Homo sapiens: one gene and its partners. The protein of the gene in region 3 purifies or fractionates together with the protein of the main gene of each other region. This does not show direct contact. Each region holds a gene or a part of one and is shown on either strand. Other genes may lie near its edges. The genes, in order: DMBT1, SCGB2A1, HBM and LTF.

Region 1 (7,334 bases), on a different chromosome or scaffold from region 3:
GTCCACACATTTTGAATAGACCCTTCTGCACATACTGAGACCAATCTGTAGTCTTCCAAGAATCAACCACATAGCTGTAGGTTACTCCAGCTGCCATTGTGGGAATGGTGGTAAATTGCCTGAAGGGAGAAGAATCACTTCTGGAAAATGATTTATTAATTTTTTTTTTTGAGACAGAGTCTCACTCTGTCACCCAGGCTGGAGTGCAGTGGCACAATCTCGGCTCACGGCAACCTCTGCCTCCTGAGTTCAAGTGATTCTCATGCTAACAAACACTGGTACCTTCCTACTAAGTTTACTCCAGGCTTTATCTGGATTTCACCAGTTTTTCATTTTCTGTTGCAGGATCCAATCCAAGAGCTCACATTACTTTTAGGAAGCTGCTTTTGGATAAAACATGAGGAAAATGTCTAGAGTAGTAACACTAAATGGTTCTGAGGCTCTGTCTATGTGCCAGATACTGCATGGGTTGGAACATAACCTCCATTTATAAATGAGTAAACTGAGGGTCACAGAGGATCCACAGCAGGCAAGTGGCAGAGGAGGGGCATTGCTGGGGCTAGCAGTGGGTACCACAGCCTTTCCTGCCCAGCACAAACCTGGGCATACTGAGTTTTTCTCAAGAGTTTGCATGAAGACCAGAGCTGACAGGTGCCTGCCACCTCGGTACTTCCAGCGCAAAGCTCTGTGGTCAGGCTCCAAGCACTGAGTTAGATGCCACAGTTCAGTTCATCACCTCAGTTCCCTGCAAGGAGCAGCAAGGGCCAGTGGGCCAGAGCTGTCATCTGAATGCTAGTGAATTTGATCCAGATTCAAGCCCTAACCCAGCCACTCACCAGTGCTGTCTTTGGACAAGCCAATAACCTTTCTGAGCCTCAGTTTCCCCATCTGAAATGTGGAAATAATTGTTCCTAACTTCAGCAATGTTAGAAGATTTAAATAAGAGAATACAGGTCCACTTCAGAGAGCATGAATTCCCACCTCTGAATGGCAAACACAGGCATGCATGCACATGTGTGCATGTCTGTCCATATGCATGCACATAACATCATGGGCAAACTACAAATGTCCTCAATCCAAGAGCACTGCTGCCTGTTGTTTCTTTGTAGATAAAGACGAGGCAATTCACTCCCTGTCTACAGTGGCTGATGTGAATTCCATGTCATGGTTCAGAGACAATCTGGAGGGTGAACTCGGTACTGACAAGAGCTGGGGCTGAGGACGCAGCCTCCCAGTTTCAGATGCTTCTGATGGAGGCAGGATGAGGATGCCCAGTCTCCACTCCCCTGAGGTCCTGGGCCTGGTGGCCCCCAGTCCCTCCACACACTCATCACAGGGGGTGGGCCTGCTCCCTACCACCTGGGTGGGAGGGCTGGGTTTGGGGGTGCTGCTTTCATGAAAGCAACCAACCAGATGAACCTTAATCTTCAAAGCTTCCCCCACTGAGCCTAGGGGGAGAGTGACAGTTCCAGAAGTTACCTGAAAATTAGGTGATTTTTACCCTGTATCCTGAAATTCATAAATCTAGCAAAAGATGACATAAAAGAAAAAAAAGGCAGTAGGAAAGATAAAAGAGAAGAAGGAAGAAAGAAATGAATAAAGAGAGGGAGAGAAAGAAAAAGGGATGGAAGGAAGGTAGAAAGAAGATAGAAACAAAGGGAGAGAGAGAGAGAGAAATAGGGAGGAAAAGTGATAAGAGCTGCCCAATAGATGATGAGAAAGAGTGAGAGAGAAAAAGAGAGGGGGAGGGAAGGTGATAATAGCTGCCTGACAGATGAAGAGAAACAGATAGAGAGAGAGAGGAAAGGTGATAATAGTTGCCCAATAGTTGAAGAGAAAGAGAGACAGAGACAGAGAGAAAGGTGATAATAGCTGCCCAATAAAGAGAAAGAGAGATGGAGAGAGAAACAGAGAAGGAGGAGGAGGGAGGGAGGAAAGGTAATAACTGCCTGATAGATGAGAAAGACAGGAAGATACAGTGAGGGGGGCAGGGAGAGAAAGGCAGAGGCAGAAACAGAGGGAGGAGGAGGAAGAAAAGGTGATATCTGCCCAAAAGATGGGAAAAAGAGAAAGATACAGAGAGAGAGAGAAACACAGACAGACAGACAGAAACAGAGGGAGAGAGAGGGGAGAGAAAAGATGATAATAACTACACAATAGATAAGAGAGAAAGAGAGAGAGAGAGAGGCAGAGAGACAGGAAGAGAGAGACAAAATAGGCAAACTGAGAATCACTTGTTCCTCTAGTATCTCTGCAAAATGCCATTGAGATGCAGCAATCAGAGTGCGCTACCGACGGCTCTCTCACGTTTATCATCTGACTCTCTAAGAACATACAGCTATGCTTGAGTGACTGGGCTTCAAGTGTTTGTTTAAAGCTGTGCATGACAGAGAAACTTGGAATTCCAAGACAAACTTGGAATCTTAATGATCTTGTCTGCGCTCAATTACTTGACCTGATTTTGCTCGGCAAATATTAGCCATCAAGCCAGACACACCTGTAGAAAGAAGCCACATAAAGGGCATTTGCAGTGGGAATCCTTTCTGCCCGTTTTCATAGCACACAAATTGTGTGTTTAACCAATTGTTGCAAAGTTTAAGGGCCTCTTAATAATACACATCCACCTTTCCTAAACTTCAGGGATTTTTCTAAGACAAATCAATCATTCCTTTAGTTGAATGACTTACTGAAAACATTGACTTAATGACTGGCTTTTTCTAACTACAACCATTTATATTTCTCAGCCAGAAATAAAACAAAAAAGAGCCATTCCTCCTGAATACCTGCAAACAATTACAATTATCAGCAAAGTGCTACCCACTCTTTGATATAAAACTTCCCTTGTAATGGAAAGTAGTAGATATAATTTGCCATGATTGGGTCTGCAGGAGAGAAATTAATGAATATAATAATTAAACGTAATACCTGTAGATAGAACTTGTCCCCATAAAAGACACATTTCAAGGATGACTGTGGAGATCCCCATTTTGCTGGGTTCTTCTCAATTGAATAGAAAATCCTGGACATTTATAGGTACCTAGCTAAAAGGAGGTGTGTCCTCTAGGGTGGTATATTTCTACTGCTGCTATAAATCAATATAAAGGAAGTGAGGGCTTTTGCTAACAGTCGATGGCTAATATGTGGAAAAAACTTAGGTGTGTTTGATTGATTGCCATATGAACAATCTGGCTGTTGCCCAACTGCAAACGCACTGACATAAGTGAAAAATTTCCAACTTCCCTCTCGGTGAACCTCAAGGACTCCCAAGTGTTTCCTGAATACGGGCTTGATTTTAATCTTGGGGAGTTCAAATTCACCTGTGGGAAGTCTGCCCCAAGGTTTGGGGAAGAACAGGATGTGGGCTGCTGAGCAAATACAGGACACAGTGCCAAGGGGGAAAGCATCTCTGGGATGGTTTTTCCTGGCAGGACATGCTCTCATCAGCCCCTGTGCAGTACTAGTAACCTCACCTTGGAAGAACGAGGATGACATGAGTGTGGATGTGATCAGAGAGCAGAAGTCATGAGGGATGATTCCACGGAGACCATGGGTCCATAATAGCTTTGGCCACAGTCTTCTGGGTCTCACACTAATTCCACAACAGGAGCTGAGAAACACATGACCTCAAACTGAACCACCTCCAACCATTTCACATGGCTTTGATTTCTTGTCCTTGACATGCACATTGTATGACCCTTGGAGCTTGGCAAACCCACAAAACCTGCCCCCACCTCCACCTATATTGCACACAATCCCCCTCCTTGGATTTGCTATGTAAATATCACTTCACTCTTTGGGACCCTCAGAAGTCATTACCAGACTCTGATAATGCCCCCCAACACACTCTACCAAGAAGGTTGCCTGACACTTATTTTTTAACCAAGACACTTGATGGCCAGTAACTCTTGGTTAAAAGCAGACAGCTTTCCAGGACTTGCCTCTGTTTTCCTAGCCTGGGTGAGCTGTGCCCTGCTTCTCAGCTGAGAGGCTGAGGCCATGAAATGACACTTGGCTTCTTTGCCATGCACTGTTCATCAGTAGTCTATGCTGCATTCTAGAAGGGTACCATGAACCCATGTCCTGTGTCAGCCACCAGTCAGAATTTAGGGCTGGAAGTCTGCCTTTGGCTTCATCCAGATGAAAGTTACATTTAATCTTGGATGTCCTTTTTAATCCTACAACTCTTCCTGTTGTTTCCAGGTGCCTCTTCACCCCTTGAGTAGAACAGGAACACAGAATAGGCTCACTGTGTTTCATCCTCCTACTGCCAGATCAGCAACTGATAAGCACTGGGTGACGAGAGAACAGGTTTACTCACCTACCAGGGAATGCCCAAGACCAGGCACATGCTGGATTCCTCTTAGAAGTGGATTGTGATCCCTTGGTTCCTGGAGTGTTGGACTGAGAATGATAATGCAGCTGGGTCTGGGATCATCAGAGTGTCATGACAGATTAGAATTGTCTGCCGGGAGCACAGCAGGGAAAGATGATGGTAAGAATACTAAATACCTGTGAACAGGAAGGGGTAATAAGTGTCCTTCCAAGACAAAAGCAGACTGTCTGGTCTTAGAGACAGACCTGCCTGGTGACAATTTCAACAGGGGGTAGCAAGTATTAGTACAAGCTGCTATGAGAAGGTAAAGAAAAGCATCTAAATCAGATGAGGGAGGCCATCTCTCAGAGAGGGTGGCACCAAACAGTCTTGAAATACCAGCAGAGGTCAGCCCAGCAAATGAGAGCGAGAAGATGGGATGACGAACAGGAGCGACTCTCCCGGCTGTACAGGAATGGGGGCAGGGAGCCTTCCCCTCCAGGAAAGCATGATGTCCCAGGTATCTCTCAGCTTGGCGGGGACACCCTTCTTGAGAATGTGTGGGATTTTCTGAACTGCGTAACCTCCCCGTTTTTGTTGTTTTGACTGCATCTTTTGCCCATGGTGGTTAGCAGAAAAGATCCTGAGAAAATAAGGTTTGTGAGCTTTTTGTTCAGGAGACACCAGGAAGAAGGAAGTGGTGAAGCCTAGCTGTCATTTCAAAGCCAGCCCAGGTAGGCATCCCAGGTGGGAAATGGGTGACGTCAGTGGAACAGGAAGGATGTGGCGGTCCTGGGCATGCGGGCAGAAGACAATGGGCTTGAGGGCCACCTGCCAACACCGTGTGGGACCTCAGCCTTCACCGTCAGGTGCCTCATCTTGTCCCAAGGCCATTTTGTGGCTCATAAGACACCATTTAGGGAGGTCTTTCCTTGGACTAAGAGAAGGGTTCAGGGGGACAACCTCCTCCAGCAGCAGCCCCTGCCAGAGGACCCTCATCTTCCCCTTCCTACTGGTTAGAAGCATCTGCTTAAACAGCAGGGGTTGGAAGACCACAACCACAAAGTTCCATTTTATTCACCCCAGAACTGCCATGAAGAACAACAGGAAGCAAGATAAGCCCATTAAAGCTCAGAGACTCGGCGCCCGGGCCCCATTTGCAAAGCACCTTCCCCAGGCAATTAAGCCAGCGGCACCCCCACAGCACACTCCAGGAGGTGGGACCAAGCCCCTAAATCCCAGCACCAGAGGACTGGTCATTATGGGGAAGAGCCCCCTGGATCATATGTGGCCATTTATTTATTTATTTACTTATTTATTTTAAGACGGAGTCTTGTTCTGTCGCCCAGGCTGGAGTGCAGTGGTGCAATCTCGGCTCACTACAACCTCCGCCTCCCAAGTTCAAGCGATTCTCCTGCCTCAGCCTCCCGAGTAGCTGGAACTACAGGCGTGCATCACCACACCCAGCTAACTTTTGTATTTTTAGTAGAGACAGGGTTTCACCATGTTGGCCAGGATGGTGTCGATCTCTTGACCTTGCGATCTGCCTGCCTCGGCCTCTCAAAGTTCTGAGATTACAGGCATGAGTCACCGCGCCCGGCCATGTATGGCTTTTTTTTTTAAAGCTACAGAATCCTTTCCTAAATTGGAATTCATGGGGAAGCCCCAAAACATAAAACAGGCCAGTGGAATGCTCCCGAGTGTGGTGAGGGAGTCCCCTTCCAGGCCCCTCCCCTAGGGCCACCTGCCGTCAGAGCTGAGGATTACCTGTGGGAAGCCAAGACCTCCCTTCATAAGACAGGGCACTGAGAGGCCCAGCAGGGCCCCTGGGGCTGCCAGGCACACATCCCTGCCACGAAGCTGAGCTGGGGTCCCAGGCAGACTTCCCAAAACAGCCCGTTGTTCTCCTTCTTCTAAAGATTCTTTCTACCCACAGACCAGTGCCCTGGGAAGCCAGAGGAAGACGGAGATCAGGGAGGCAGCCCAGGGCCCCTCCCACCTCCCACCTCTGAGGGGTCTCTGATTTCTGAACCAGGAGCCCTGTGACCTGACAGACAGACGAGGGGGACAGAAGGACGGGGAGCCTGGTGGGAAGGGTCGGGGCTGTAGCACTTTCCGGCTGCTGCTGTTTGCCTTCCAGTCCCTGAATCCTGTAATCTGTGTGACCAGGGCTCCCCTTCAGGTGTCAGTCTGACCCCAAACTCTAATTTTACCCTCATTGAGTAGCACACCATAATTGCTGGTCATCGTTACCGTTGTAACAATCTTTTGACATTGTATGTCTGATATTTATAATGTCGCTCATTTTTGTTGCTCAGAGAGCCGGTCTTCCCAATCGGGTTATAAGGGGACCCCTTCCTACCCTCCTTCACTCACTCCCCCCACCCCCCACTGCCCCACACCTCCTTGCTGGGCTTTGAGGATCAAGCTGAGACCCGTTGTCTCCTGCTGCCCCTCTGTGATCCCAGTGCCCCAGCAGAGCAGGTGCTCAGCAGGCAATGGCTTTGAAGGTGGGGATTGTGAGTGGCTCACCCATGCTGTCCAGGGGTCCCCAGAAAGAAGTCTTGTGGTTAAACGGGGGCTGGTGACGAGCCAGTTCTCCTCCACCACTCAGCCTCCAGCTGGGGACGATGAGGTCCAGAGAAGGGAAATGACACACAGAGCTGAGACCATGTCCAGGACAGCACTCACGGCAGCTGCTGCCCCCCATCTGAAGGACAGATGAGCTCCACGTTCATCAGGATGCCATCCAACCGCGGAATCTTCCAGCAACAAACACAGCCCTCTAGGGACCCCTGACACACAGAAATCCCATTGCATGCCTCCCATCTTGCTCAGAGTAAGGCTCAAAGCCCTCCCATGGTTTATAAGGCCCTGCACAAGATACCCCTGCCTCTCTCTCCCCCTTGCCCCCTGTAACCATCATCCAGCCCCAGGGCCTTTGCACTTGCTGCTCCCTGTGCCTGAAGACTTTTTCCCCAAATGTCTGGAGACTCACTCCTTCCCCTCCTCCAGAGATTTT
Region 2 (7,913 bases), on a different chromosome or scaffold from region 3:
TAATCCCAGCACTTTGGGAGGCCGAGGCGGGCAGATCACCTGAGGTCAGGAGTTCAAGACCAGCCTGGCCAACATGGTAAAATCTCATCTCTACTAAAAATACAAAAATTAGCTGGGCATGGTGGTACATGCCTGTAGTCCCAGCTACCTGAGAGTCTGAGGCACAAGAATTGCTTGATCCCAGGAGGCAGAGGTTGCAGTGAACGAAGATCATGCCACTGCACTCCAGCCTGGGCAACAGAGTGAAACTCCATCTCAAAAAAATTTTTTTCTTTATTTTAGAAAATGCAGAATTTGCACAAATTGTATTTTCTGAGCTAGATAAAAAAAAATAAGAATGTTTTGAATATTTGTTTTTGTGAAAGTAGGAAATTTCTTAGTAGATTGCTCCTACAAGTGTGTGATCTCTTGAGAACCAGATATTTTCTCTTGATAAAAATGTGCATGTTCTGGCTGGGTGCGGGGGCTCAGACCTGTAATCTCAGAACTCTGGGAGGCCAAGGGAGGCAGATCACTTGAGGTTAGGAGTTTGAGACCAGCCTGGCCAACATGGTGAAACTCCTTCTCTAGTTAAAATACAAAAATTAGCCCGGCGTGGTGGCGCACACCTGTAATCCCAACTACTCGGGAGGTGGAGGCAGGCAAATCTCTTGAACCCGGGAGGTGGAGGTTGCAGTGAGCCGAGATTCACGCCACTACACTCCAGCCTGAGTGACAGAGCGAAACTCCGTCTCAAAAAAAAAAAAAAAAATGCCGATGCCTGTCCCCGTGTGTCTGTGTGTGTCTATACTTGTGTGCTTATGTGTGTCTGTGTCTGTGTGAGAAGGGACTGGTGAGGTCAGAGGTAGACGGGTGATCTCTAAGGCTTTCTTTTCTCCTTTTTGCCTTTTCCATTTATCACTCCCTAAAGATTCTCAATGTGAAGTGGCAAAGCAGCCTGGAGACAAAGTTTAATGAATTGATATATAAAGAAAGTTTGTTCACCAGTTGCTTGGCATTCTTGGTGCCAAATTTAGAGCCCGCTGGTTCTGATCAGTGATTTTCAAAGGGTACATAAGAAGAAACCCAAATTACCATCATCAGTCCAAAGTTTTTCAGAGTTCTATGTGACTGGTTGAGGAAACACTGCTTGAATTTCCCCATAGCCTCTGCAGCGGCATCACTGTCTATGAACTCTTGAAGAAGCTCTTTGTATTCAGGTATAGATATGTCGGAATTGATGGTCTTTTCAACCATGTCCTCCAGGAGTTTGCAGCCAGAATCTGGAAAAAAAAAAAAAAAAAAAAAAGACACAAGAACATGGGCCATTACTAGAGGTGTGATTCATTCTACAGATGAATTGGGAAGCTGGCTATCTTCGTACCTCCAGGGACAGACCGAGGTTCAGAAAGATTTTGGTGCAGTATGCAGAGTTCTCAATTCTGGGAGTGTAAACTCAGGCTCTGCAAATTCTCTCTGACCTTCCAAACCCAGAGAAGCCCAACCCTGTGTATTCTTGGTGAAGAGGACCCTCGAGAAATGAGGTGTTCTGACTGGGGGGACATAGCAAACACTACTTGGACTTTCTTGGTTCAAAGTCATGCAATGCTTCCCTGTTATCATGCCCAGCATCAGGTAGGGTTTCCAAGGATTTCAGATGAATGGGTCTAGGACATTGTCCATTAGTTCTGTTGACTCTACTGCAATAAAAGGGAATGTGTGGCCAGGTATGGTGGCTCACGCCTGTAATCCCAGCACTTAGGGAGGCCAAGGCAGGCGAATTGCTTGAGCTCAGGAGTTTAAGACCAGCCTGGACAACACAGGGAGACCTCATCTCTACAAAAAATTTAAAAATTAGCCAGGCATAGTGGTGTCCACCTGTAGTCCCAGCTACTCGGGAGGCTGAGGCAGGAGCATTACTTGAGCCTTCGAGGAAGAGGTTGCAGTGAGCTGAGACTGTGCCATTGCACACCAGTCCCAGTCCCAGCCTGGGTGACAGAGCAAGACCCTGTCTCAAACACACACACACACACACACACACACACACACACACACACACATGAATGTGAAATAGAGCTTGTTCATGAGGGGATCTGAGGTCACCTCCCACTGTAAGGGAGAGGAACGAGCTCAGGACGTGGCTTCATGTGAGCTGGTTGTGCTCTGGACTTTGTGATTTTCCAGTTAGTTGACTGTGAGCTTGTCACCCTTCTACACATCTGCACCTACCTTGGATGCCAATACGGTAGGGTTTGGAATCCACCTTTGTGAACTGCACAAGGCAGGCTACCTATGGAAATATTAGCGCTGATTCCAGCAGCCGGGGCTTTTTCCTCCCACTGAATCTTTAGTGCTGGAAGGAGACTCCAGGGGTTGTGAGTTCTCACCTGTCTGCCTTGAGCCTGAAGCAACTGGGAGGGTAAGGGCATCCCAGAAGGACCCAGATCAACTCTGAGAACACAGAGTGAGCCACACAGGGTGAGAGACACTGGGTCACACTCTGCAGCCTGGGCCTTCTGTCCTGGGAGGTTTCCTATTTCGTTCCATATTCAAGGAGACCCATGATTATTTCCTGATTTCTAGGTGTAGATGCCATCTCTCCCTTGCCCCACTGAAATAGTTCATTTCAATATTTAATCCTGAGACTCATCCTGGTTTCTATGGTCACCGTGACCATGGTGAGACGCTGAGTGCCATGATACACTGTGTGCAGCTCCAATGCAGGGGACAGCCCATGAGGACACTGCATGCTTGATTGTCAGGAACTCATGGGGATCCTAAGGCCTATCGCACCCAGGCCCTTCACACTGGGGCTCGTCTGTGCTGGGGATTAGAGGTTGGGAGTTCTTCTACAGGGGCCCAGGTGACAATTCCTAGCCCAGAAGCAGCCCTCTCTGCCCAGAACTCACCTGCATAGCAGTGCAGGAGGAGGGCCGCCAGCATGAGGACCATCAGCAGCTTCATGGCGAGGCGGCTGCTGTCTGTGTTCAGTCGTGCGTGGCAGGGATCAAGGAAGTTGCTGTGGAGGTGAGTACCCAGCCCTGCTCTATTTATTCCCCAGGGAGGCACCTTAGTCCCTCCCAGGAATGAGGCAATGTGTCAACCTGGCATGGGACCAGGACACAATAGTGTACACCAATGGGAACACAGCCAGCCTGTGCTCTGTTTGTAGAAACCAAGAAGGCAGTAATATTTGGATCCCTGACAATCTGGGGACTACAATAATGATACATGGCTTTTAGTAAAATGGATGTGACAGTGTTTTCCAAAATATAAAGCAAAACCCAGTGGCGTGATCTTGTGGTCTCAACAATGTTGTTATTATTGTAGTTTTCTTCTAGTCCTCCTTCCCTTCTTCCTCCTCCTCCTTCTATTCTTTTTCTTCTATTCCTCTTGGTCTCCTCCTCTTCTCGTTATTCTTCAAGGTACAAACAGTTTCATAACTTGTGTATCTGCCGGTCCTGGAATCATCAAATATTTGGGCTATGTGCAATACCTGCATCTTCCTATGGGAGGCAGACCTTCCTAATCCATAGACATTTCTTTTTCAGAAAAGCGGGTTTTTTTGTTTTTGTTTTTTGGGGTTTTGTTGCTGTTGTTGTTGTTGTTTTGAGACAGAGTCTCACTCTATTGCCCAGGCTGGAGTGCAGTGGTGCGATCTTGGCTCACTGCAGCCTCCGCCTCCCGGGTTCCAGAAATTCTCCTGCCTCAGCCTCCTGGGTAGCTGGGATTACAGGCATGCGCCAGGACACCTGGCTAATTTTTGTATTTTTAGTAGAGACAGGGTTTCACCATTTTGGCCAGGCTGGTCTCGAACTTCTGACCTCAGGAGATCCACCTCACTCAGCCTCCCAAAGTGCTGGGATTACAGGCGTGAGCCACCATGCCCAGCCCCGAAAAGTGCTTTAAGTTTTGGGGAAAACATTAATATCTAACCTCTACTGAAAGCTTCTTGTTATTCTTGTTAAGAATTACAACACTAAGTTAATTCAACTTTACAAATTTATTTTACAATATATTTATAATTTAATTTGTGCTTAGTTCTTTGTTAGCCTTTTACGGTTTTCTATCCACTGACTGAGAGGATGCTGTGAGTGAGTGGAGTAACTGACTGCTTGGGCAGGCAGTGCTAGGCAGTGGGTGGCAATGGGGTTGGGTGATGATGAGATTTAGGTGATAAGATTTGGGCAGGTGTGGGTGTGGATCCTGGAGGCCACACGTACTCATGCTGTGTCTTTGGGCAAATTACAATGCTGGTCCCTCTGGGCTTCCTTTCTGTCTTTGTGAAACGGGTATAAGTGATGCTGAATTTTTTTTTTTTTCGAGACAGAGTCTTGCCCTGTTGCCCAGGCTGGAGTTCAGTGGCACGATCTTGGCTCACTGCAACCTCCGCCTCCCGAGTTCAAGCGATTCTCCTGCCTCAACCTTCTGAGTAGCTGGGATTACAGGCATGTGGCACGAGGCCCGGCTAATTTTCGTATTTTTAGTAGAGACGGAGTTTCTCCATGTTGGCCAGGCTGGTCTCGAACTCCTGACCTCAGGTGATCCACCCACCTCGGCCTCCCAAAGTGCTGAGATTACAGGTGTGAGCCACCGTGCCCGCCTGGCCGTGAATTTTTGTAAAGATGAGAGATACTCTGTAAATTTTTTTTTTTGAGATGGAGTCTCACTCTTATTGCCCAGGCTGGAGTGCAGTGGCGTGATCTCAACTCACTGCAACCTCAGCCTTCCCGGGTTCAAGCGATTATCCTGCCTCAGTCTCCTGAGTAGCTGGGATTACAGGTGTGCACCACCACGCCCAGCTAATTTTTATTTATTTATTTATTTATTTATTTATTTATTTATTTATTTATTTTGTATTTTTAGTAGAGATGGGGGTTTCACCATGTTGGCCAGGCTGGTCTCAAACTCCTGACCTCGTGATCCACCCACCTTGGCCTCCCAAAGTGCTGGGATTATAGGTTTGAGCCACCGCTCCCGGCCGACGCTCTGTAAATTTTTAATCACGCAGCCAAGCATGAGATAATTCTGAATAAATGGCAGTTGCATTCATGCGTGGATCCCTTGTTGTACGCATCACTGTTTTGCTTCTCCTGTGAGCTGGGCCTTGCACTAGATTCAGTTATAGAAACAGGTTAGACCAGGTGCTTGCTCCTGTGGACCTTATTTTCTAATGAAGGACACAAAGAACAAGACTAAAGATATATCAGAGGTATGAGAAAGTGGTCATTGCTGCAAAGAACAACAAAATATTCACAACAGCTGAATGCTGTCATAGATGGCCTGCCCAGGGGCAGTGGCCTGTAAGCCCCCCAAGGCAGCCTGTAGGAGCAGGTGCTGTTTCAGCTGAGACTTGGATGAGTGGATGGTGATGTCCAAGGACACATCTGGGGAAGAGAATTCCAGGGAGAGGGAACTGCAAGTACAGAAGCTTGAGGACAGATGGCACTGGCAAGGTAAGGAAGGGAAGGAACGTGGCCACATAGAATCAGGAAAAGGACGGGACAGCCTCACATGATAGAAAGCCCATCCCTGTTTAATTAGGGGCACAGTGAAGGTCATAGGAACAAGAAAAACAAAGTTGGCTCAGGTAAAAAAAGAAAAAAGAAAAAAAAAGAAGTCGATGAAACAGCCAGAGGAATGAATCCATTGTTAATTCCCTGTGAATGCATTGTTTTCTCTCTGGATTACTTGCGACATGTTTCTTTCCACCATTCAGGTGGAGCCTCAGTGGCCAAGAACAAACCTAATTTTGGGGAGGACAGAAAGGAGAAGTGTTGTTTACTTACCACTGTACACAGCTGACCCTGGCTGGTGGCCTTGTTTCCCAAGGGTAGTGAAGGACCTTGATTATGAAATGTGAGAGTGTCTCCTTGGCCAGTACTTATTGGGGCTCTGCCTGGTGCCCCAGTCCTTGTGGCCCTGCCTTGTCAGTCACCTTCTTACACAGAACAGAACTTCAGGAAAGGCCTCTGGTCTTGGAGCCATCTTTGTTGGCAGCAATATGCCTGTTGTTCAAGTCACCAAGGCCTCGTCTAGACCCAGCGCCTCCCTCGCGCCCGAGCCTCATGCTGGGATTCCAAGTCTGAGTTGCTCAGTGTTCAATCCACCCCAGCACCCCCATATTCCAGCTCAGTGTCCCAAAATGTGTCAGAAGCTTGCAAAGACTGACCTCCCCCTGCGTAGGGGTGAATACATCTGGTGACACGGGGTTGGGATTGAGTGAAGGGAACAGGGTGAATCCTCTAAAGAGACCACAAGCATCAGAAACGCTTTCTGGCCTCTCCTTTCTGAAATGGGGCTGAGGAAAGGAGAGGCTGTAGCTTCCATGGGGAGTCTACAGCAACCAAGGAAGAACCCCCTTCCCCTTACACACACACCCAAGATGCACGTGACGGTGGTGCGTTTTTCATACTCACTCAATTGTCAGAAGAGACCTGTGACCCTCTGTACCTCTGAGAGGCCTGGGGAGACACACACAGGAGACTATAAGCCCGGACGGGAAAGGAGAGGTGCAGAGAGAGATGGATGAAGGGCTCTGGAAGGCCAAAGGAGGGAAAGGGTGCTTTCCCTTAAGTGGGAGAAACGTCCTCTGGCTCAGAGGTTGAGGGGAGGCTGTGGGTAGGGAGAGGTAGGTTAAAGATGGATAAATTCAGAAGATGCCGGAGGTGACTCCCAGAGGAGTCAGATGATTGAAAAGTAAGGAAAGGATAAAATCCCTTATTCCATGGGGCAGTCCCATCCCAGCTGGACATTCCCAAGACTCCCAGGAAGGATCTGGGAAGGGAGGGCCTGAGAAGCTGCAGCTCTGCTGAGCGCCGCTGTGTTGCACTGCTGGGTCCCATCTCTGCAGGTTCTGCAGCCCTTTCTCGTAAGGGTTGGATGGCAGGTGGGTGGTGAGTGAGGACTCGGAGCCTGACCACCACTTGTGTTCACATCACAGCTCCTCCGTTTGCTGACTGCCACATTGGACAGGAGACTTAATGCTGTGTGTTCCCTTTAAAATGGGAACAGTCATAGAATTGCTGTGATTCACAAGTAAAAAGTGGAAAGTCCTGAGAACAGTGCTTGGCACAAAGCAGGTGCTATCCAGATGTCAGCTGGTAGCCATTATTTTTGAATAATAAAAAAATGTATTTATGGTAAACTCCAAGGACCACTAGGACTGTTCGACACTACTGAAACTCGGCTTCCACATAATATTCTCTAAAATATTTGAGTAACTATTCAGATATAAGCTAAAACTTTTAAGTTTGAAAACAAAGTTCTGTGTTTTGATCCATGTGTATTTGATTTTTTTTCAGCGTTCCCCTTTCCTCAGAGGTTTTTTGGTTTTATGATTTTTTTTTTTTTTTGGAACAGGGTCTTGCTCTGTCGCCCCAGCTGGAGTGCAGTGGTGCCATCTTGGCTCACTGCACCCTCTGCCTCCTGAGTTCAAGCGATCCTCCTGCCTCAGCCTTTCCAGTAGCCGAGATTACAGGCGCACACCACCACGCCCAGCTATATTTTTGTATTTTTGGTAGAGACAGAGTTTCGCCATGTTGCTCAGGCTGGTCTCGAACTCCTGGGGTCAAGTGATCCGCCCACCTTGGCCTCCCAAAGTGCTGGGATTATAGGCATGAACTACCACGACTAGCCTCAGAGTTTTATTGAAATAATTTACAAATAACTTATCACCCAAGCATCTTCTACTTAGTATTACCATATTAATCTTCCCAGAAACCAGTTCCAATTTATTGAACATGTTTACATACATTTTTTAATTTTTTACCCAGCTTTACTAAGGTAAATTGACAAATAAAAATTATATTTATTTATGGTTTATATGTTTTGATGTATATATGCATTCTGAAATGATTAATTCAAGCTAATTAACACACCATCATCTCACACACTTGTTTTTTTTGTGATAAGAACATTTAAGATCTCATTGT
Region 3 (6,200 bases):
GACCTCATCCCCAGGGCTGCAGGGTCACAGGGAGGGCTAACCAGGCTAGCGCAGGTTTGCCACTGAGGAAGTGTCCATGGGGGAAGGAAGGGGAAAGGAACAGGTCTGCGGAGCCCTCTGCTCTGGGCCAACGAATTAGGTTGCACATTTGGCTCTGGGACCTCAGTTTCTGCATCTCTCTGCAAAAAGGGCCAGGATTAGCATCTACAGGTCCCAGCAGGAAGTGGGGATGGAGGGAGAATGAATGAATAAATGCGTGAATGGGGAAGTGCTTTGCGAACAGTATGGTTGGAAGCCCGATTCAAGGGTTGAAGTCGAAGGCCACCCTCCCTACCCCCGCCACATCACAGTGCTCCCTCTGCCCCATCGCACTCCTCGCCATGGGAGGACAAACCTCCGGGGGTGGGGCGCATTTGAGAGTTCTAGGAGGCTCCTTTTAGGTCCCTGAGCTTCACTGGCCAACAATAGTGACCTCGCTTTGCTAGCTCCCCAAAGACCACACAGGCAGGGGCAGATGGTTCGGGCCTCTGTTTATTGACAGGCACAGACCAAGGCCTGCGCAGCACAGGGCTCAGCGGTATTTTTCGGTCAGCACCACGGCCACACCAGTCAGGAACTTGTCCCACGCCGCTTGCATTTGCACGGTGAACTCGTCCTGCAGGTGGGAGGCCAGCACGACGTGGAAACACTGGATTAGCAGCTGCAGGAGAAGGGGCCGGTGAGACGGGGTCTGCCCCGCTAGGGACCCCCAGAGCCCCCCCACCCCGGCTGCGCGCTGCACCATTGCCCCGGCCGGAAAGGCCTCACCGGAAAGTTGGCTGGGTCCACGCGCAGCACGAGCGCGTGCAGGTCCGCCAGCGGGCTCAGCGCGGCGCGCAGGTTGTCCACGTGCTGCACCGCCGCGCCCACAGCCGCCAGCATGCGCTGCCCGTGGCTCAGCAGCTGCGTCGCGTCCTGGCAGGCGCTCAGGTGCGGGAAGTAGACCTTGGTGCTGGGGTACACCGTGAAGAGCCTGCAGGACCAGGTCAGTGACCGGGGAGGAGGGCGGCTGCGTGGGGCTTCACTAGCGCCCACACCGCCCAGAGCCCGGGGATCCGCACCCGAAGGACCTTGGATGGCGTTGGCGGCCCACGCGCCCAAAACCCTCATCTCCACCTCCCTGAGCTCCCGGAGACCCCGCCTCTACCGACCTGAGCAGCAGCTCCGCCCCGAATTGCGCCTCGTGGCCCGCAATCAGGTCCCAGACCTGCGCGATTTGGGCGCGCTCCTGGGCGCTGAGCATGGCGCCGCCTGACGTGCTCTGGGGGCCGCGCCCGCCGCCCTGGCCTCCTTATAGAGCCTCCGGGCACCCCGCCCGTCCTTATCGGCCCGAGCGCGGCGGGAACGCGGGGACCCTCGGCCTGCGCCGGGGAACGTAACCAGCCCGGGTTCCCGTCTGTGTGGAGGCCTCGACCTCCGGGATCCCAGGGTTTCTGGCATTGACCCACGCCGTTGCGCGTGGGCACCTTTACTGCAGACTTTAGGGGCATCTGTTTACTCCCCTCGGGTAAAGTTACTGCTCTGCCAGGAGGGAGCACATGGGAGGAACCGGAGAGAGAACACCGGGCAGGAAACCCCCTACTCTCTTAGGAGTCGGGGAGGGACCGGCCTCAGGGACCCCCGTAGCTGCCAGAGTCCCGGGATTCGGACGTCAGGCTTTGTGGAAAAGTTCCCTGAGCCCCGACACGCTTCCAATACGCTTAGTGAAGTGACAATCTTTGTGCGATATGGGAAGCCGGGAGACGCACAAACGCCCGTCCGACTCAAGGACCCCAGGAGACGCCGCGGGCCGGCCCGGGACTGCTCCGCTCCACCCGGGCCGCAGCTCCGGTGCTCAGGGGCTAGAACCTCCCCAAGGCGCCCCCCAAGTGAACCCCAGGCCGCGACGACAGTGGGGACGACCGAGTTCCTGCGAAGCCCCCGGACCCATCACTCAGCTTCTCCCCTCCTTCCCTCCAATACTGAGAACACAGAGCCCAGATCGCTCCGTCCTCATCCATTTATTGGAGTCAGGGCAGGAACTGTGGGAGGGTGAAGGGCAGGGGAGGGGCCGCAGCCTGTCCTGGGGGTCCCGGAGGCGGCGCTCAGCGGTACTTCTCGGTCAGGACAGAGGATACGACCGATAGGAACTTGGCCCAGGCGGCGTGGGCCTCGGCCGTGAAGTCGGCGGGGAAGCGCGCGGCCAGGGTGACCAGCAGGCAGTGGGACAGGAGCTGGGGGCGGGGGCGGCTCAGTGCGGGGGCGGGGCCTAGCCCGGGCCCCGCCCCGCGACCCCACCCCGCCCCGCCCCGCCCCGCGCCCCGCCCCGCGACCCCGCCCCGCGACCCCGCCCCGGCCCGGCCCGCCCCGCCCCGCGCCCCGCCCCGCCCAGCCCCTCCCCGCCCCGCCCCGCCCCGCCGGGCCCCGGCCGCCCCGCCCGCCCCGCCCCGCCCCGCCCCGCCCCGCGACCCCGCCCCGCCCCGCGACCCCACCCCGCCCCGCCCCGCGACCCCGCCCCGCGGCCCCGCCCGCCCCGCGGCCCCGCCCCGCCCCGCCCGCACCGCGCCCCGCGCACCTTGAAGTTGACCGGGTCCACGCGCAGGATGTAGGCGTGCAGCTCGCTCAGCTTGGACAGGGCGCCGCCGATGTCGTCGATGCTCTTCACCGCGTCGCCCACGGCGGCCACCACCTTGGAGCCGTGCGCGCGCAACTGCGCGGACCCCGGGTGCAGGTCGAAGTGCGGGAAGTAGGTCTTGGTCTGCGGGTGGCTGAGGAAGAGCCTGGGACGGGGGGCGGGGGCCGTGAGCTCCCAGCAGCGCGGCCTCCCGCCACGGCCCACGCGCCCTGCGGCCCTCTCCGAGCACCGGGACACATCTGCGACCCCGCAGCAGGCCCCAGCCCCTCCTCGCGGGGCCCGGGTGCCCAGGCAGCTGCCCCTCCCAGGCTGCCCTGGGCTAGAGGCCCCCCAGGCCTCTGCAGCTCCCGGCTGATCGCCCTGCTTCCGACGGGTTCTGTGCAGCCTGGTCCCCAAATCTCCCGCCCTCCGCCTCCAGCACGCCTGGTGCCCCCAGCCCCTCCACCGTCTCCTCTGGCCACAGGACCTCCCTCCCAGCCCCAGACTGGGTTGCCCGCCACCCCTTCTGCAGGCTCATGACCTCCCAGCAGCGTTCCAGGGAAGGAAAAGCTCCCTGGCCCCTCCCAGGGGATCAGATGCTGGGAATTTGAAGCTGGGACAGTGCCCTGATCCCAGATGCTGGGACTTTAGAGGCTGTAGTGCCCTGGCTGCCCTGTAAGGCCCTTCAGGCCTAGAACGAAACCTTTCACCCTCTGCTTGTCAGAACCTGGGCCTGTGCCTGCCCAGGTCTCAGCGAGCCCAGATGGTTGTGCAACTCCTAATCGTTCCCTCCTTACCCTGCCCTCCTCACTGAGAGGGAAGGCTATCTGTCTCCACTGTCCCCTCCCCACAGTCCCCTCCTCACTGTCCCTTCCTCACTCTCCCCTCCCCACTGTGCCCTCCCCATGGTCCCCTCCTCACTGTCCTCTCCCCACAGTCCCCTCCTCACTGTCCCCTCTCCATTGTCCCCTCCTCACTGTCCCCTCCCCATGGTCCCCTCCTCACTGTCCCCTCCCCAAGGTCCCCTCCTCACTGTCTCCTTCCCACGGTCCCCTCCTCACTGTCCCCTCCCCACGGTCCCCTCCTCACTGTCCCCTCCCCACGGTCCCCTCCTCACTGTCCCCTCCCTACGGTCCCCTCCTCACTGTCTCCTCCCCACGGTCCCCTCCTCACTGTCCCCTCCCCACGGTCCCCTCCTCACTGTCCCCTCCCCACTGTCCCCTCCCTATGGTCCCCTCCTCACTGTCCCCACTCCACGGTCCCCTTCCCATGGTCCCCTCCTCACTGTCCCCTCTCCACTGTCCTCTCCCCACTGTCTCCTACTCACTGTCCCCTCCCCACGGTCCCCTCCCCACTGCCCGCTCCCCACTGTCCCCACTCACATACCTGGCCTCCCACCCAGTCCCTCTGGCAGTCCCATCTGACACTCACCTCTCCAGAGTCTCGGTGCCGATGGTGTCGGCCTGCGTGGAGATCTTGGCCCACATGGACACAATGATGGTCCCCTAAGTCTTGGTCAGAGACATGGCGGCAGGGTGGGCGGCTGCACTGGAGTTGGGCCTGCTCAGGACTGGCCTTGGTAGTGCTCAGCCCCCAGGGTCCCCTTATATACAGGGAGCTGGGCCCAGCCAGGCTGTGGCCATTGGTCAGGTGAGGGGAGGGGGCTGCAGGGGTGGTGTTTCTTATCAGATCCAGTGACAAAGGGGCCCTCAGGTGGGACTGGGGGCTGAGGAACCTATCGCTTCTGTCTCCCCTTCTGCCCACCCCTGAGTCACAGCTGGAGCCCCAGCTTCAGGGAGATTGGGGCCCCAATCTGGGCATGAGAGTCCACGTGGTCAGCCCAGCCCGGACTGGCCTCAGGAGTGACTGTCCTTGACCTCCCTGTCCCTGTGATGACAGGGTGACCTAGAGCACATGGGCCCTGGCAGAGGGACGATCCATTCCTCACTTCACTGAAACTTCTCTGGCCCACCTTATGAGCTCCAGTTTGCAAATGAGGAAACCGAGACCCCCTAGAGAGAAAGTGGGACCCAGTGTCACAGGGTGGGAAGGGACAGACCTCTCCCACCTCCGGTGTGCAGCCCCCTCACCTGAATGAGGCTCGGTCTGGGGTTCTCCTCCAGTAGCCTTGTAGGGGACACTCTGAGCCGGGCACCTAGGCAGGAAAGCGTCTTGGGAGGCCGGACTCCTCACAGAAGGTGAGGTCATGCAGGCCTGCAATTCTGCTCACTATGTTCTCATCGCAGCCTGGAGGAGACCCTCCTCCAGCTCTACTGATTTATTTCTTTTTATCCTCTCTGTTTATTAACTCCCCCCTCCTCCGTTAGACAACCATTTCTATGTGCTGAATATATTCCTTTTAGTTAGTACGTGTGCTTGCAAAGGGTATGATTTTATGCATGTATTTTAAATTTATACGAATTATAGGTAGATATAAAAATTTTGTTTGTTAGTTTGTTTCTGAGATGGAGTCTTGCTCTGTCTCCCAGACTGGAGTGTGGTGGCATGATTTTGACCCACTGCAACCTCTGCCTCCTGGGTTCAAGTGATTCTCCTGCTTCAGTCTCCTGAGTAGCTGGGATTACAGGCACACACCACCACGGCCTGGCTAATTTTTGTATTTTTAGTACAGATGGAATTTCACCATGTTGGCCAGGCTGGTGTCGAACTCTTGACCTCAGGTGATCTGCCTGCCTCGGCCTCTGAAAGAGCTGGGATTATGAGCGTGAACCACCGTGCCCGGCCCATGCACATCTTTTTTAAATAGAGGATTTTTTAAAACAAGGGAAAAAAAGGCTGGGCGTGGTGGCTTGCTCATGGGGCCGCACATGGTGGCTCGTGGTTGTGATGAGGTCGCATCACTGCACTCCAGCCTGGGTGACAGAGCGAGGTTCTGCCTCAGAAAAAATAAAAATAAAAATAATAATAATAGAAAGAGAGAAAATGCATCTTCACACACTGATGCTTTTCCGTTGCTGCGTCAGCAAGCGTGCCCCCATCCCCGCTGACAGGTGCAACATCTTCAGCCTGCAGAGCTCCCCTTTGTGAACAAGCTCTAGTTTTTTTCTATTATAAACAACTCCATGAAGAATATCAGTGCTTTGGATCTTTTCCTGGTGATAGACCTCTAGAAGGGGAATTACTAGAAGGAGACTCAAGAGTATTCGTTTTTTAGCTTTTTGAAACAAATTACTTTTCAAGACAATTATATGGACTTACAGTTGCAAAATTAGCTGTTTGAGGCTCAGTGTGGGTGCCCTTCCTGCCCTCGGGCTGTCACCGCTGGCCTGGAGTAAGTTGGAAGTTTAGCACTACACACCATGGGGCAGCTTTCAGACCGCAGGCTGCAGAGGTGAGGGAATCCCACAGGAGACTGACACCCTTTGTTTTGAAAACTCCCTGGAGGGGGTCTCCAGCCAGAGTCAGGGTAGGGGGGGCAGGTGAGGCAGGTGAGGAGGGTATTGAAAGGACGCACAGGACCTTGGGGCCTGCAGTGTACCAGGCCTTGGGGTTGGGTGCATGAGGCAGAGGGATGCGTGCGATAGGATGTTAGCAACGGTAAATCAGC
Region 4 (7,024 bases), on a different chromosome or scaffold from region 3:
TAATATTTTTACAACTATATTAAAAATAGAGAAGTGGACAAAGATTTCTACTCAAGAATGCTCACCACAGGGTTATTGATAATAGCAAAGTAAGGGACAAAGAGGAATGGGGGCATGACTAAACTGAGCCATATTCACATAAAAGATATCCTGGAAGCATGTTTAAAAAATGTTTTCGTCCGAGTGCTGTGGCTCACACCCGTAATCCCAGCACTTTGGGAGGCCGAAGCAGGAAGATTGCTTGAGCCCAGGAGTTCGAGACGAGCCTGGGCAACAAAGCGAGACCCTGTCGCTACAATAATAATAATAATAATTATGCAGGTGTGGTGGCGTATGCCTGTAGCCCCAGCTACTTGGGAAGCTGAGATGGGAGGATCACTTGAGCCCAAGAGTTCCAGGCTGCAGTGAGATGTGGTCGCACCACTGCACTCCAGCCTGGGTGACAGATCAAGAATCTGTCTCTTAAAAAAAAAAAAATTAATGCTTTCCAAGAGTAAATATTCATGTGGAAGAATGCCCATTATACGCTGTTTAGTGAAAAGGGCTTAAAAACGACATACTGCAACACTTCATTATTGTTGCATGCATATCTGCAGATGTGCAGAGAAATACTGGAATGGAGAATTAGCCAGACTTTAACCATGTCTGTCCCTCTGTGTGAGATCACAGGTGGTTTGGGGGGTTTGTTGTTGTTTTGTTTTAACATAATACCTTTCCATATTTTCCAAATTCCTTATAATAATCCTGAGTTGTTCTTATAACCAGAGGAGTGGGAAACCCACAGTAAACTGCTTTTTGAAACTAAAATGCTTTCTGGCCCTGAGCACACCTCTCCAGGCATCCCTGCCTCACCCAGGCCCCCGTGGCCTCTTTGACTGTTGACTTCACTTTAAGCAGATGCCCAGGCCCTAGGTCTTCCACCGGGCCCACCGCCCGCCCCTGTGATGGAGCTCCCTACCAGCACCAGGGCGATGCAGTCCTCTGTGGTGGAGGCCGAGGAGCAGGTCACGCTGCCTTCGCTCAAGCCACTCCACTGGTTACACTTGCGCAGCTCCTGCTCGCCCACCGCACACCACACGACCCGCGCACGCCGGGCAGCCACTTCCTCCTCACCTGCCAGAGGGAAGACCGCAGGTGGCTGGGCAACCTGAGCTTTGCCAGGTTGTCCAACCTCCCCAGAGCCAGGGTCCTGCCCAGACTCTCCCTGGAACAGGAGCTACAGTACATGTGTGGACATGTGGACCCATACCCTCTCCTCCTCCACTTCTCAGCTCCAAGCCCCTTCTTCAGGTCCACAGAGCTCCCTGTGTTTCCCACTTCTGTTCCTTTGGAGAAGTTCCCTGGCTTCTAATCTATCCATTAATCTTTAGAGTCAGGAGGCGCCTATTGTCTCTGTCTCTGAGGATAAACGCTCCATGACCCAGAGACCAGTGACAGTCCCAAGAGATGGCCTAGGGGACCTTGAGCCCAACCCTGACTTCCCCTAACGCCTGCAATCACCACCAATAACTACGGTGCAGCCTCTGGGTTCCCCCAGACTCCCACCCCCAGCCCCCCAGTAGAGAAGGAGCCATAGCTGAGTTCCCCCACCATGGTGTCCCCAACTAAGTTCAAGGTCTGGGCCTGGGAAGTGTGGGTAAATCCAGGCCCCCGGATTCATCCAGGAGGGGTCCTGGCTATCTTTGTTCATGTTCATGTTTCTCACTTAATAGGAGGCAAACTGATTTTTCTGCCAGGCCTGGGGAGCCTGACGTGCACTGATCAGGTGGCCAGACTATTCTTTTAGAGACACCTGACCTAATCCACAGAAGACACTCACACCTGCATCAAACCTCCACGATGACCCCACAGTGTCTGGGAAAAGGAGTGACCGCCACAAAGTAGGGCCACCTGCTGGGAAGTAGAAGACCACACCAGGCGGACCTCAGGACCCTCCTGGGCTCACTCACTTTTCCTCAAGTTCTGGATGGCAGTGAAGTAGCCGGAGCCAAGGTACAGCCCAGAATCTATCCTCGGGGGCACCCTCGAAAACCCAATGGCAGAGTCCTTGAACAGCAGATCTTTCTGCCCACTAGGGGAGCCAAAGAGCTGGAATTTCGGTGACTTGTCCTTTCCAAACTTTTCCTAATTAAGAAAAAATAGAATTATGGTGTCAATGGTAAATAGGGAGGAAACAAAAAAATGATGTTAAAAAAGAGTATCTGGAGCTTTGGGATCATTCTAACTGAGAGCAGGAGCCTCGGTTGAGACCCTCCTGCAGAGGGACTTGTGCCATCTCGGAGACCCAAGCTCAGCTATGGCTCATTCTTTGAAGAGTTGCTGAGGTCCAAGCACCTTAGGGCCCTGAGAAGATTGCATCGACCACCCCCTGCTTCTGCTCCCATCATAAGACGCTGTCAGCCCGTGTGACAGAAGAGTTTCATTGCTTCTGCTGTCCACAGTACAGCCTGGGCAAGCAGCCCAATGCATTAGTGTGCTATCCTGCAGCAAAGCTACAGGACTTCTGGAGTGGCAGAAGTCAGGGAAGTAAGAAACCTTGCTCCCTGCCCCCCATATCCAAGCAAGTGGGGAGGACCGTGGGTGAAGATACCTGTGCCTGGCGGAGAAGATTCCAGATGGCATCCTCCTTGCCATTCACACTTCGTGCCACAACGGCATGAGAAGGGACCCGGGCCAGATGGCAGTCTTTGAACTTGTCCACTGGCTTCCGAGTGTTGTCTGGGCAGAGTAACTCATACTCGTCCCTTTCAGCCTCGTCTGACAGGTCCTCTGCAGGGAAGGTGAGGTGGGAGGGAGTCTAGATAAGCCGACTCCAGCAGTAACCTCGAGCTATAGTTCCCCTTCTCCCTATAGAATTTTGAGCTTGGGGAGATAGCTGACAAAACTGAGGGTCAGAAAGGCAGGGGTTTGCTCCAGAACACTCAGAAAGGTAAAGGTAGTGCCCCAAAAGCCTCAGGGGGCAGCCGAGGTGTGATCCTCATCCTAAATCACTTAGGCCACCCTGGGGTTCCCGTGCAGCTGCTGCCTGGCAGGCCAGAGAGGCCAAACCAGACCCGTCTGTTTCTGCGGCATCTCTGCCTGGAAAAGTCACTTTGCAGAGACAAGCTCAGGGGGCCACCAAGGGTTGCTCCCTTACTCACATCTCTGGGAAGAATAAAAATGACAAAAATGTTAACAAGGCAGGGAATAAGGCAGGAAGGTGAGACACTTTCCAACACTGAGTATATCAAAAGAAGGGGAAGAATGGTTTTATGAATGAGTTCAGGCAAATGTGGAATATCATATATAAGTTGCTTCAGAATGTGTAAAGTGAAAAAAATCTTGCCCGAGTCATTTTATGAGATTAGTACAACCTTGATGTCAAAATCAGAAAAAGTATAGGAGGGAAGAATTAAAAGTTTATTTTACTTACGAACATAAATGCAAAATTTGTAAATAACGTACTAACTAACTCAATCTCACAGAGTATTTAAAAAGCTAATAGATTGGAATGAAGGTTTACCAGTGTATTCCATTAACAAAAGAATGGCTGAACATCAAAAAAACTAAAGTAATCTGCATTTAATGGCAGAAAACCATGAGATCGTCTTCATCTTAATAGATGCAGAACGATTGTTTATGTGTTCAACATCTATTTGTGTGTGGTTTTTTTTTCAGCCTCAGAAAAATAGTAATAGATAGAATCGGTAAAGTTTTTTTGTTTGTTTTGAGACGGAGTCTCACTCTGTTGCCCAGCCTGGAATGCAGTGGTGCGATCTCAGCTCACTGCATCCTCCATCTCCTGGAGTCAAGAGATTCTCTTGCCTCAGCCTCCCAAGTAGCTGGGACCACAAGCGCACGCCACCAGGCCCAGCTAATTTTTGTATTTTTAATAGAGATGGGGTTTCACCATGTTGGCCAGGCTGGTCTCGAACTCCTGACCTCATGTGATCCACCCGCCTCAGTCTCCCAAAGTGCTGGGATTACAGGGGTGAGACACCACGCCTGGCCATAAGTTATTGGCTTGATAAATGCCATTAATCTACAGCAAAAACCTTACTAAAAGAAGAAAATGTAGACATTCACCGCAAAATCAGGAACAAGGCAAGGATGCCCACTGTTACAATGCCAGCACAATTCTAGATATCCAGATCACACAATTTACAAAAGAAATGTGAGATATAAACACTGGAAGGAAAAAGACACACTCTTATTTAAAAAGATGATATCGTCATCTACAAAAAACCAATGAAACCAACAGAAACTAATAAAACTACTCAGAGGAGTAACAAGTTATAAGAGCAACCTACAAAAATCAGATGTTATCCTCATTAACAATAACCAAATAGAAACCAATATGGACTATAAGATGTTACAATAGCAACTAAAACCATTAAGTAGCTAATAATTAGCCTCCCACAAAGACACATCAGACCCACAAAGGAAAAATTTTAGTTCTATCAAAGAAACTAAAAAGAGGTGTGATCAAATGGGGGAGATTTAGCATCACCATGGACTGGACAACTTAATGTTATAAATATGCTGATTTTTCATGGAACAATTTAAATTCAGTACAATTCGAATCAAAATTAAAGTATGATTTTTTCCAGAAATTCAACAAAATAATTCTGAAGTTTTAGCTGAGTATATTTGAAAAGGAATAATAAAGTGAGAGGGGAGAGGGAGCTCTCTCTCATTCTCTCTCTCTTCCTCTCACTGGCTCTCTCTCTTTCTCTCCACCAGATAGTAAGACCCATTGGTAAGCCACAGTAACAAAAGCAGAAAAAATGCAAATACACCAATGAAATAAAATAGCTCAGAAACTGGTCCACTTGGATATATACAAACTTGGTGTAGAATTGGCTTCACATATGGCAGAAAAAATATACTTTTTTTATTGTAAGGTAAATTGCCTCACTGTAAAGGGGATAAAATGCTAAAGCCAAATCTATATCTGACTTTCTAGGTAGAGCACATATAAATAGATGAGGAAGGGGATCTTCAAATCTTATTTTAGGAAATAATTATGATTTGGGTGTGAAGAAGGGCATCTTTGAAATATCTCAAAACTACAAACCAACAAGGTGAGGCTTGTGGATTTGACCTTATCAATATCAAGGATTTTTGATCAACAGAGACTACCGTTGTCAGATTTTTGACTGAGAAGAGGTTTTACTAAAGTTTAAAATCAGCAATAGTTTGATACCTAGATAGAAGGAACTTCTGTCCTTGAATCAAAATCATGCAGAAACAAGGTGTGAAACTCAATTTAAAAAGTAGTCAAATGTCACAAAATAAGAAAGGGAAGCCCAAACGGCTAGCAAATATGTTGAAATGATCAAACTCACCAGCTGTCAGAGAAATGAAAATTAAAAATAAAACGAACTATCTATTGCATTACAACCATCATTCGGACAAAAAGTATGAAAGTCAAAAATACTTCTAACTGAAGTTGTGGGGAAATTAGAACACTTGCAGAGTGTCATTCCAGACAGCAGCTTGGTGATCCTGGGTGCATGTGGGGTCTGTCTCTGGTGGCCCTGGGTGCATGTGGAGGTCTGTTTCTGGTGGCCTCTGATGAATGCGGGGTCTGTCTCTGATGGTCCTAGGTGAATGTGGGTGTTGTCTCTTTCTCTGGTGGTCCTGGGTGGATGTGGGGTGTGTCTCTGATGGTCCTGAGTGAATGTGGGTGTCTGTCACTTTCTCTAGTGGCCCTGGGTGGAATATAGTAGCCCTGTCTCTATTGGTCTTGCATGAAATGTAGTGAGCTTATGTCCACTAGTCCTGGGTGCAGTGTGTTTAGCCTCTACATACTCATCAACTGCTTTATTATAAGTCCAGGAGGGACGCTGTCCAGCACGTAAGTAAGGAACACAGGTGAAGGTATCAGTCGTGTGGCTGCATGTGGTAGAGGAAAAGAGAGCACAACCTCTGTCCATCACTATGGTGACAGAGAAGTAAAAGGTGGATGTATTCCACGGAACACTCCTCAACTGTTAGGACCCCTGAGCTAGACATGTATACAACAATACCGATAAACCTCTAAAACAAAATGCTGAGCAGAAAACCCAAGTAGCAGGATTTCTAATGCTCACTAAAACCTCTATGAACCCAGAAACCGGAAACACAAACCAGCACAATCTGTTCTGCATGAGCACATGTGTCTTGGAGGACTGGAGGACGCATTGCCAAGCACCTAGGCATGGGTGTCTATGAGGGGAAGAGAAAGGCAGTAGGCACAGGAGGTTTGAAGAAAACTGATCATTTAAAATATGAAAGATCATAAAATCAGAGCTGTGCCCTGTAGGAATCTTGAAAATGGTCTGCCATGAACTTAGGAATCTAATTAGCTCAAAGGTCAGAGTCATGATCAAGTAAGATAAAAGGGGTCAGTACCCACGGCTCATTACCCTGCTCTTACCAAACACTGTGCTCTCTCTGATAAAAGCCACGTCTCCAGCCCCGTCTCTCAGACACCTGTGAAAAGAGAAACCATCAGGGGTAAGCACAGGCAGCCCTCCCCAGCCCCTCCCTGTGGAACAGTAGCCCTGGCACTCAGCATCTATGGGTTTCTACTCCCTGCAGGGCAGGGCTCTGAAGCTTTGGGGCATCCCAGCTGGGAAGGTAGGGGCCCCCTCCAGGTAGATACTGAAGAATGACTCAGGTGCTAGCCAGAGGCCCCCATCTTCTGCTTTGAGGGCTAAGAGGACAAAACTTTTTTCTATATAAAGGAGAGTTTTGAAGCCTCTACCCAAGAGGGTAAAGCCTTAGCATCACTGTTCATGTGGCTGTTTTCCTCAGGACTGAGTGTGCAGGTGTGCCCTGGCCAGTGGGGAAGTGTGGAGGCCTCCCTCTGCAAAAATACGCTAGTGCCAGCAGACAGAATGGGAAAAGGGGGAGCTCAGCCTCCGCGTGGGGGCAGAGAGGATGGGGGCGAATCAGGCATTGCTCACTGTCCTTCAGCCACGGGGAGAGGCCCAGGTGGGCAGAAGGACATCAGCCTGGACACTGCAGCGGTCCTGCCCAACCAGGAGCCAGGACTGGA

The links.
Region 1: the proteins of HBM (region 3) and DMBT1 purify together in Homo sapiens (affinity purification with mass spectrometry; 2 studies listed by BioGRID and IntAct, with this or other methods). This does not show direct contact.
Region 2: the proteins of HBM (region 3) and SCGB2A1 purify together in Homo sapiens (affinity purification with mass spectrometry; 2 studies listed by BioGRID and IntAct, with this or other methods). This does not show direct contact.
Region 4: the proteins of HBM (region 3) and LTF purify together in Homo sapiens (affinity purification with mass spectrometry; 2 studies listed by BioGRID and IntAct, with this or other methods). This does not show direct contact.

Annotation. Positions count from the first base shown.
Region 1 is NC_000010.11:122,556,423-122,563,756, reverse strand, and holds the start of DMBT1 (scavenger receptor cysteine-rich domain-containing protein DMBT1 isoform e precursor), read right to left. Parts: upstream 3,004-7,334; 5' UTR 2,987-3,003; coding exon 2,926-2,986; intron 1-2,925.
Region 2 is NC_000011.10:62,203,762-62,211,674, reverse strand, and holds the start of SCGB2A1 (mammaglobin-B precursor), read right to left. Parts: upstream 3,003-7,913; 5' UTR 2,944-3,002; coding exon 2,889-2,943; intron 1,263-2,888; coding exon 1,075-1,262; intron 1-1,074. UniProt on the Homo sapiens protein: May bind androgens and other steroids, may also bind estramustine, a chemotherapeutic agent used for prostate cancer. May be under transcriptional regulation of steroid hormones.
Region 3 is NC_000016.10:161,080-167,279, reverse strand, and holds HBM (hemoglobin subunit mu), read right to left. Parts: upstream 1,303-6,200; 5' UTR 1,283-1,302; coding exon 1,191-1,282; intron 1,013-1,190; coding exon 808-1,012; intron 701-807; coding exon 572-700; 3' UTR 516-571; downstream 1-515.
Region 4 is NC_000003.12:46,447,905-46,454,928, forward strand, and holds part of LTF (lactotransferrin isoform 1 preproprotein), read right to left. Parts: intron 6,457-7,024; coding exon 6,401-6,456; intron 2,770-6,400; coding exon 2,591-2,769; intron 2,125-2,590; coding exon 1,950-2,124; intron 1,114-1,949; coding exon 959-1,113; intron 1-958. UniProt on the Homo sapiens protein: Transferrins are iron binding transport proteins which can bind two Fe(3+) ions in association with the binding of an anion, usually bicarbonate. Lactoferricin binds to the bacterial surface and is crucial for the bactericidal functions.